Regions from separate parts of the Homo sapiens genome. Here regions 1 and 3 are each linked to region 2. Evidence: fine-mapped expression QTL. A gene starts in region 2. Each other region holds a variant in brackets. All regions are shown on one strand. Distances are from middle to middle. Region 1 has its middle 15 kb from the start of PHF19. Region 2 holds the start of TRAF1 (TNF receptor associated factor 1). Region 3 overlaps LOC105376253 (a long non-coding RNA gene).

Region 1 (2,761 bases), 34 kb before region 2:
TTAGGTATCCCTGCTCATGCCCCAGAGCGCCTGGGTTTCTGCTCATCACAGTTAGTGTAAGGATCCATTTACTCATCTGCCTCTCCCGCCCTCTTCCCTTCTCTCCCCTCCTCTCCCCTCCTTTCCCCTTCTTCTCCTCTCCTTCCCTCCCCTCCCCTCTCTGAGGAACTTGGTCCAGCTACAGTCAATATCTAGAGAAGGTATTGGCCTAGAGAACCTTGCTCAATCTTAAGCCCGCACACCTGCCGTACTTTGGGATCACCCCGGGAACCTTAACATGCTGATGCCTGTGTTCTTATCTTCAGAGACTCTGGTTTGATTGGCCTGGATGTGGCCTAGGCATGGGGTGAAGAGTGTGGGTTGAAAAGCTCCCCGGGTGGTTCAAGGTGCAGCCCAGGTGGAGCGCCACCATAATTTACAGCACACGACTCAAGACCCACCCAGCCACTTAGAGGAGCTGCACTCCAGGCACCTCGGGGAGTATAACCTTGAACTCGGAACCCCACTATATTTGCCATATTTGTTGTGTTGAAAGAAAACTAGTCATCTGTTTATCTGAGTCAGTAGCATTGAGCAGCTGTATAGTCCCCCACAGGCCCCACCCAGTCTTCCGTGCTTGTTAGGAGAGACGGAAGCATCACAGTCACCTGGTAGAAGGATGCCTGTCTGAGCCCCACCCCAAATCCAAGGAGCCAGACCAGGGACCCTGTGCTATAAACAAGTCTCCTGGTGATCCTTCTGCACACAAATGTGCCAGGGCTCAAAACATCCTAAAACAGGCTGCAAACCCCTGACGCCTTGCAGAGCCAGGTAGGAAAGTTCAAAGCAAAGAAAGGCCTCCAGGGGACCATGCGGGGACTGGAAAACGACTGGCTCTAGCAAATTCTTGTCCTTTGGGAATGTGGGCCCCATGTTGTCAAGTCCCTCTTTTTTAAAAAGAGAATGCCAAAAATCTGAATTTTTAAAAAGGTGAAACTTGTTTAAAGCTGACAACTAATTCAAGCCATTTAAGTACACAGCTCAGACCAAACAAAACTTACCTGGGACCTGAATTTAGCATCTATTACCAATGTTTGCGGCAAACCCCACACGTGGATGAAGCTAGAGGGTGGTGTGCTTGCCTGGCCTTGTCTCGGCTCTCTCTTTTTTGAGCTGTTTTCCTGCTATGGGACTTGGGCCAGCACGGAGTAGGAGTGGGGAGGCGGTGGGGAGCGGGTACAGGAAACGGCCCCTGAGACTTGTGCCGTACGTGCAATTGGGAGGCTGTTTGGGGACATTGTTCCTCACGTTTAACAGTGTTCTCTTCATGCCAACTCTCTAAAAAAATACCTCTCAGGTCTCAGGGCCTAATAGAGTTTTGATTTGCCTCAGCAATGGTGTGCCAGTGTCTTATGGACACTGAATTGCGTGGGATCAAGTTTTAGCTGCTAGAAAGGTCAGAGGGCAATTTGTGGCCTGTCCCCATGGCATATAGGACCTCAAGGTCCACACTTGTATACCTGTCATTCCTGGGTGCTTCTGACCTTTCCAACTTCTGTTTTTC[G/A]TTTGATGCTTGTCACATGACCACTCCTGTAAAATTTTATGCTTGTATATCAAATAAAGAAGTTAAGTGCTTTCTGAAATAAGGCATGCTATAAATAAATAAGCCCATAAAAATAGTAAGTGCTGAAAAAAAGGGTTATTGAATACATGACTACTTGAATGATTCATTTTGTGGTTGCACACAGGGCCTTGCACAGAGCAGGTGTTCAGGAAATGAGGGCAGGATGGTAGAGTGGAAAGCAGCAGTTTAGAGATGGAAAGACAATAGCCCTGCCATTTCCTAGCGACTGGGACCTTAGCCAAGCTGACTAACCTCTCTTAGCCTCAGTTTCCTCGTCTGTACAATGGGGACAATCTCAGTGCCACCTTATCAGAGTTGCTGGGAGGATTGAGTAAGATGATGTAAAGTGCCTAGCATGTAACAGGCACTTAATAAGTGGCAGCTGTGATTATTTCAACACCAGAAATACCCTCATCTATGAATGTCATTGTTAAATGACTTAGTAAAGGCAGTAATGTGTGCAACATGAGTGAGGACGCTCTCCCTTTGCTCAAGCCAGCTAGAGTGTGACAGAGAAACCACATGGATTCACTGGGTCAATAAAATGGGGAGGCCTTCCAGAAGCTCTCGATTCCCTCAGCTCCTTGTCCCAGGTCTCTGCTCCCCTCCACACCAGGGCCCCTCTGATTATAGCAGTGATGGCAGGTGGCTCCCTGTCTGAGTGTGGCTGCCCCATCACTCCCCTCTCAGCATGCTTATGTGCTAAAGACCCTGTCCTGTCTGCCCCCGTCATCCAATCTCTAGCCCTAGCCCTGTACATTCCCTTTCTGGAAGCCTCTGGCAGTTTTCTGCAAGCTTCCCAGCCCTGACTGATCCCTCTCCTGGTCATCACTTAAGTGAGCAAATTCATCTTTGAACGGTTCCTTGACCTTTTGCTTGACAGATGCACGCATGCTTTAGAAAGCACACGTCATGCAGTGCACAGGAGGTGCACTCAGAGATGACTGAATGTAGTGTCTGGGGCTCACTCCCTCTGAGGGTTGGACACCAGGCAGACAGTCAGGAAAGCAACTCTCTAATACTGTTACGAGGGAGAAAATACATCATATAGATCCCTGCGATGGAAGGTGGTCTATGGTGAGTTGTAGGTTTCCCTAAGGGCCTAAAATTTATTCATAAGAGGCACTGTTGCATAGGGCAGTGGTTCTCAAAGTGTAG
Region 2 (2,712 bases):
CTCATTTGTAAAATAGGATCATAATAGTATCCACCCCTCTAAGTTGTGCTGAGGACCCAAGGGCAGAGCATTTGGCACACAGTAGGTGCATAATTGCTTAAAGAGGGATGTCCACAATAGTACTGATATCATGCCTTTCTGGGTTGTTAATATTTTAAGTATCATTAAATACACAAATATATATCGATCTCTTTGTCCCCTCCAAAAGGGTTCCCAGCAAACGGTCTGAGGTGATGAGCAATGCTGTGGAAGGAGAGATATTCGTCTAACAGTTTGTCATTCACCAAGAGGTTTATATTTGTTATTATAAGGACTTTTGTGATTATTATTCATTGGGCTTCATTAACAATTCTATGACACAGAAAACAGCTTTACAGACAAGCGAGCTGCGGCTTAGGGACATTAGCAGAGCACCAGACCACACAGTGAGACAGTGGCCTCACAGCCTCGAGGCTCTCCTCGGTGTGGATGGCTTTCCCCTGTGGGAGCTGATGCCTTTCTGTGGCTTCCTCTCCTTCCACCACAGCCAGAGGGGCAGTGTCAGGGAGTGTGAGAAAAGGGTGTGGAAACTGAGGCCCAGAGAAGAAAAGTCACCGCCTGAAGTCACAGGCTCCTCTGCCCCTCACCTCCCATCAGGGGTCCCTCCCTGGCACCCACTTTCTGCCCACCCTCCGCTCCTCCATCACCTCACCTCGGGTTCTCAGAGAGACAGCCTGCACAGCAGAGAGCCCTGGGCTCCTTTGGGTCCTGGCAGACGGTGGGAGGGCACCCAAAGGGAAACTCATTCTCATCAGGGGCCGGGCGAGGACTGCTGCCTGAGCTGGAGGCCATCTCAGGGTTCCAGGCTGGCCAGAGGGCCTGTTTAAGTTGCTCCAGGGCAGGGGACCAGCCTTGTGGAGTCCTGGCCTGGGCCTCACTCTCTGGTGAGTAGGAGCTCTGATGACTTTATCTTCTTCTCTCTGGCTTGTGTGGTTCAACGTCACAGCTGAGTCACAGCAGGGATGGAGCAGGAATTACCCTTTGTGGCGATAAAAATCCCCTGGATGGTGACTGAAGGCTTTAGGAGTGTCCAGTCATTTTTTTTTTTTTTTAGAGTGAGAAAAAGCAAGAGAGCAAGTCAGAGAAAATGACCCGTGTCACAGACTCTCAGAAAGCACAGTGAGAGTTCCCCTGGTTGAGAATCGCAGGCTGCCGCTGGCTTCCCCCACTTCCCTGGGCACATCGGAGGAGGGGGCCACAGCTGGTCCCTGGTCTGTGTTCCCTGGCACCTCTGAGCAGCCTGGAATTCTCAGTGGGGGTGCTCACCTTCCTGGTGGAAATCCCCAGGGTGTTGGAGACAGGTCCAAAATTTCAAGTTCTAGGCGCTTTTGCTCTGCTCTGTTTGGAGTGTCTGGGTGACCTCAAGGAGAAGTCACTTCCTCACAGTGGGTTCTGATGACTCCATCTGTAAAAAAGAAGTTGCAACAGGTGGCCTCTGGGCTGTAAGATTCTGGGACCCTATCTTGCCTGGGACTGAGGCAACCAGAAGGAGCAGGAAAGCCCTGATGAAATCCAAGGCCTAGGACCACAGACTCCTCAGGGCCCTCCCCACACCACCCCACTCAGGAAGTCATAGGTGGCTACATGCTCCGGTCAGGTGCCACCACTTTACTGCCTCAAGGAGAACAAAGCGCTAAACAAATGCAAGATCACAGCAGCTGGTCTCAGCATCCAAGTGGGATGTAGATCCACATTTGCAGGAAAAGTGCACTGGGGAAACGATGGCTCCCAGAATGTGTACTGTGTGCTGGGCAACAGTTTCCCTCCAAATCCTTACAGCAACCTGCAAGGAATTCTTCTGCAGCTGTATATAGGGTCAGAGAAGCAAGATGCCTGGTCCAAAGGCACACAGCCTCTGGTAGTGGAGTGGGATTCACACCAGGGCTGTGGGGCCCCAAGCTCTGTGTGCTTGGGATGGAGATCAGAGTACCCAGCTCTTGTCTCATCTATCAAATGGAGAAGACAATCCCTACACATCTTTCCATCCTGCTTGGCTGCTACAGAGGTTTTGCAAACTTTCACAGTGGTTTCAGATCATGGGTTTTGAGGTCAGACAGAGCTGAGTTGAAATCCTGGGTCCACTGCTTACTAACTGTGGGCCCTGGGACAAAGTCCTTAACTTCCCTGAAACTCAGATTCTGCATCTGTAAAATGGGACAATAATACCTATTTCACCCATTTGTTGTGATGACTAAATGAGATAGTGGGTCAAAGTGTGGTGTGTAACCCAAGTGAAGTACTTGAATGACATTTGGCTCAGATGGTGACTACAGGCCTTCCAGCTCCTCAGAGAAAAGGATTAAAGTGGTGCATTATGCTTATACTGTGCTTTCACGTCTATCTACTGGAGCCTCAACAGGTGGGCAGGGCAGGTCATCTGGCCTGAGATACATTAAACTGCCCACCTGCCCTGGTGTAACACCAGGGCTGCCACAGGCTGGTGGCAAAGACAGCACGGCATCTTACCGCCACAATGTACATCAGGACCTCCACCCCCATAACAAACGACCTCCAGGCCTGCATCAAGACTATCAGAAGACACTCCCTTTTAACTGTGTACCCCATACCTGCAAGCTTTCCTGCAGCCAGCCCTACCTGTTCCCTCCTTCCCCTGGTTTGGGATAAAACAGGCACCCAAGACTTCTCTCCCCATCTGTGGGTCCCTTCTCTCCC
Region 3 (2,761 bases), 590 kb before region 2:
GGCACATTTTTCTGGCTCTGGTGTAAGAAAATTCTGCATTAAACAAATCTCTACTTGCCCACAAATTTTGAAAATTTCGAGTATAGCCATTTAGCTACAGTATCATAAACCATGGCAAGCAAAGCTGCAGTTACTAAGGGCTTCCTACCCATTCACACGTGAGAGGGCAAACTGACCCCACCCTCATTCCGCTGATCTCAGTGACATCTGACCCTCTGCTCTGGAACTTCCAGGACTGAGACCAAGGTTGGCATTCAAGGCGCTACTAAGAGTAGGTTGTCCTCAAGGCTTCTGAAGTCTGGCCCCTACTTACTTCCTCTCCTATGCCTCACTCCAGCCAAATGCACCTTCCCAATATGTCCCTAAACCATTCCTTGACTCACTCTTTCTTCTTCCTAGATTTCCCTGACATTGTCACATGTCCAGATCCTTCAAGGTGAACTACAATAATAAAAACAGCCAGTAATTCGAGCACTTGCTATGTGCCTAAGTATACGTTCAGAGATTTTGAAGCAGCAAACACTTACTGAATGACATATATATTAAGTCCTTTGCATCCATTTCCGTTTAATCTACACAACCATCGTCTAAGGTCCACCTCAGGAAAATGAGTGACAGAGTTTACTAACTTGCCCAACGTCCCCCACCTAGGAAGGACTGAATCCATAGTATGAACTGGGCAGTTCATCATCAGAATCACGTTCTTCTTTACAACACTATATGGGGTTCTGGACAGTCGATTGGTACACTGTAAACAATTGTTGTCAAGGAAAAAGGCTATAAACACCTCAAAAAGTTAAGCATAGAATTACCGTATGACCCAGCAATTCCACTCCTGGGTATATATCCAAGAGAAATGAAAGCACCTGTCCACATAGAAATGTGTACGCTAGTGTTCATAGCAACATTATTCACAATAGCCAAAAGGTGGTAACAACACAAATGTCCATCAACAGAGGAATGGAGAAACAAATTGGGGAATAGTCAGACAATGGAATACTATCCAGCTATCAAAAGGAATTAAGTAACGATAGATACTACAGCATGAATGAACCTTGAAAGCATCCTACAATGGCCCTGTCACTATAGGATGTTGATCAGGGAAGCTGTGCATATGTGGGGCTGGGGGATATATGGGAAACCTCTGTACCTTTTGCTCAATTTTGCTCTGAACAGAAAACTGCTCTAAAAAAATAAAGTCTATTTTTTTCAAGTTGCTGTATGAGTTTGCTAGG[GC/G]TGCCATAACAAAGTACCACAGGCTGGGTGGCTTAAACAACAAATTCATTTCTTCGTGATTCTGGAGACTAGACATCCAAAGCAAAGTGTTGGCAGTGTTGGTTTCTTCTGAGGTCTTTCCCCTTGGCTTGCGGATGGCCACTTTCTCCCTGTGTCCTCACGGGGTCTTCCCACTGTGTGTGTCTGTGTCCTAATCTCCTCTTCTTACAAGAGCCATCAATCAGGTCGGATTAGGGATCACCCTAATGACCTCAATTTAATTACTAAAGACTCTGCCTCCAAACACAGAAAACTTCTGGGGTACTGGAAGTTAGGACTTCAACATATGCCCATAACAGTCATATATTATATGATTTCTTTTCCATGAAATGTGCAGAATAGGCAAATCCATAGAGACAGAAAGCAGACTAGTGATCACCGGGGCAGAGGAGGAGAGTGAGCACCAAATGAATCAGGGTTTCCTTTGGGGGTGATGAAAATGTTCTGAAACTAGAAAGAGCTAATGGTTACACAGCATGATGAATCATAAGCTGTACATGGTTAATTGTATGATATGTGAACTTCACCTCAATAAAAACAGGTTAGAAAGAAAGGGGCTTCTCTGAGATTCCCATTCTTCCCCCTCCCCCGAGCCACAGTACAAGGTCTCTATGCCTCTTCACCCAGGGTAAAGCCCGGGGCACTGAGAGACCATGGGCCTGGAGTTGTCCTAAGTATGACATAAGATTAAGTCAAGTTTGCCAAAGACAGAAGGAAGAAAATGGCCCCAATTTCAGGAGGATATAAATGAAACCAAAGCTCTGAGCAGAATATCAATCCAAAGAACCAACTGCTGTGTGTCTGAGACTGGCCAGGTATGAAGTTTATTCCTGTGTTCTGGGCCCCTTGCCAGCACTTTCTGTGAAGGCTTTGTAAATGCATCAGGCTGGCCTCACGCTCCATCCTTTGTTCTCTAAAAGGGAAACTGTTTCCCAGATTTTGCCTCAAGGTGGGGAGTCAGAAAGATGAGGGGTGCGACTACACGAGGAACATGAGCAGACTCTATTAATGCCTCCCTGGGGCCGCAGCCAGGGCCCTGCCTCCTCTGGGGCCTCAGTGGGGTTCCATGTGGTCCTGGGTCTCCTTGACCCCAGTGCCTCCCACAGGACATGGAGGTGTTTGCTTTTTCACCTGTCTGCCACTCCGCACTGGGAGGCCCTGGAGTGCAGGGACAGTGTCTCATTCTATCTTGGACCCCTGGTGACCAGAACAGGGCCTGCAACAGAAGAAATGCTCAACTAAAGTCCGAGGAAGGAAGAGAAGGTGGAAGAAAGAAAAGAAGGACGGCATTTGATAGGAAGCAGATGGCATGATTAGAAATAATTCATGTGATCTTGGGTTCCACTCATCCCAGGCCTGGCTCCCAGGTGACCCAGGGACCTGACTCCTCTCCACCAAGGGGAGCTAAGGCCATGATGTGCTGAGAGCCTTCAAGAAGCAGGAGGGCAGAAAGGTCCGTTCCTGGTGTCATTTTGCCATCTCCAAG

Evidence for each region. PIP is the estimated chance that this variant, and not a neighbour inherited with it, causes the effect.
Region 1: its variant is the best candidate, but not a certain one, in a credible set for the expression of TRAF1 in whole blood (TOPMed, PIP 0.62).
Region 3: its variant is the best candidate, but not a certain one, in a credible set for the expression of TRAF1 in cerebellar hemisphere (GTEx, PIP 0.63).

What each region holds. Positions count from the first base shown.
Region 1 is chr9:120,891,149-120,893,909 of GRCh38, forward strand. It overlaps a transcript of PHF19 not described here. Among named protein-coding and RNA genes, the nearest start is that of PHF19, 15 kb to the left of the region's middle. RefSeq lists an enhancer at 1,473-1,692. The variant G/A (reference allele first, on the strand shown) is at 1,544.
Region 2 is chr9:120,925,245-120,927,956 of GRCh38, forward strand. It overlaps TRAF1 (TNF receptor associated factor 1), which reads right to left and starts at 1,552. Exons shown (of 8, transcript NM_005658.5): 1 at 1,306-1,552; 2 at 692-1,057. The coding sequence starts at 831. RefSeq lists enhancers at 181-704, 301-370, 831-1,170, 1,511-1,830.
Region 3 is chr9:120,334,487-120,337,247 of GRCh38, forward strand. All of the region lies in intron 2 of LOC105376253 (a long non-coding RNA gene), which reads right to left. Among named protein-coding and RNA genes, the nearest start is that of MIR147A, 91 kb to the left of the region's middle. The variant GC/G (reference allele first, on the strand shown) is at 1,236.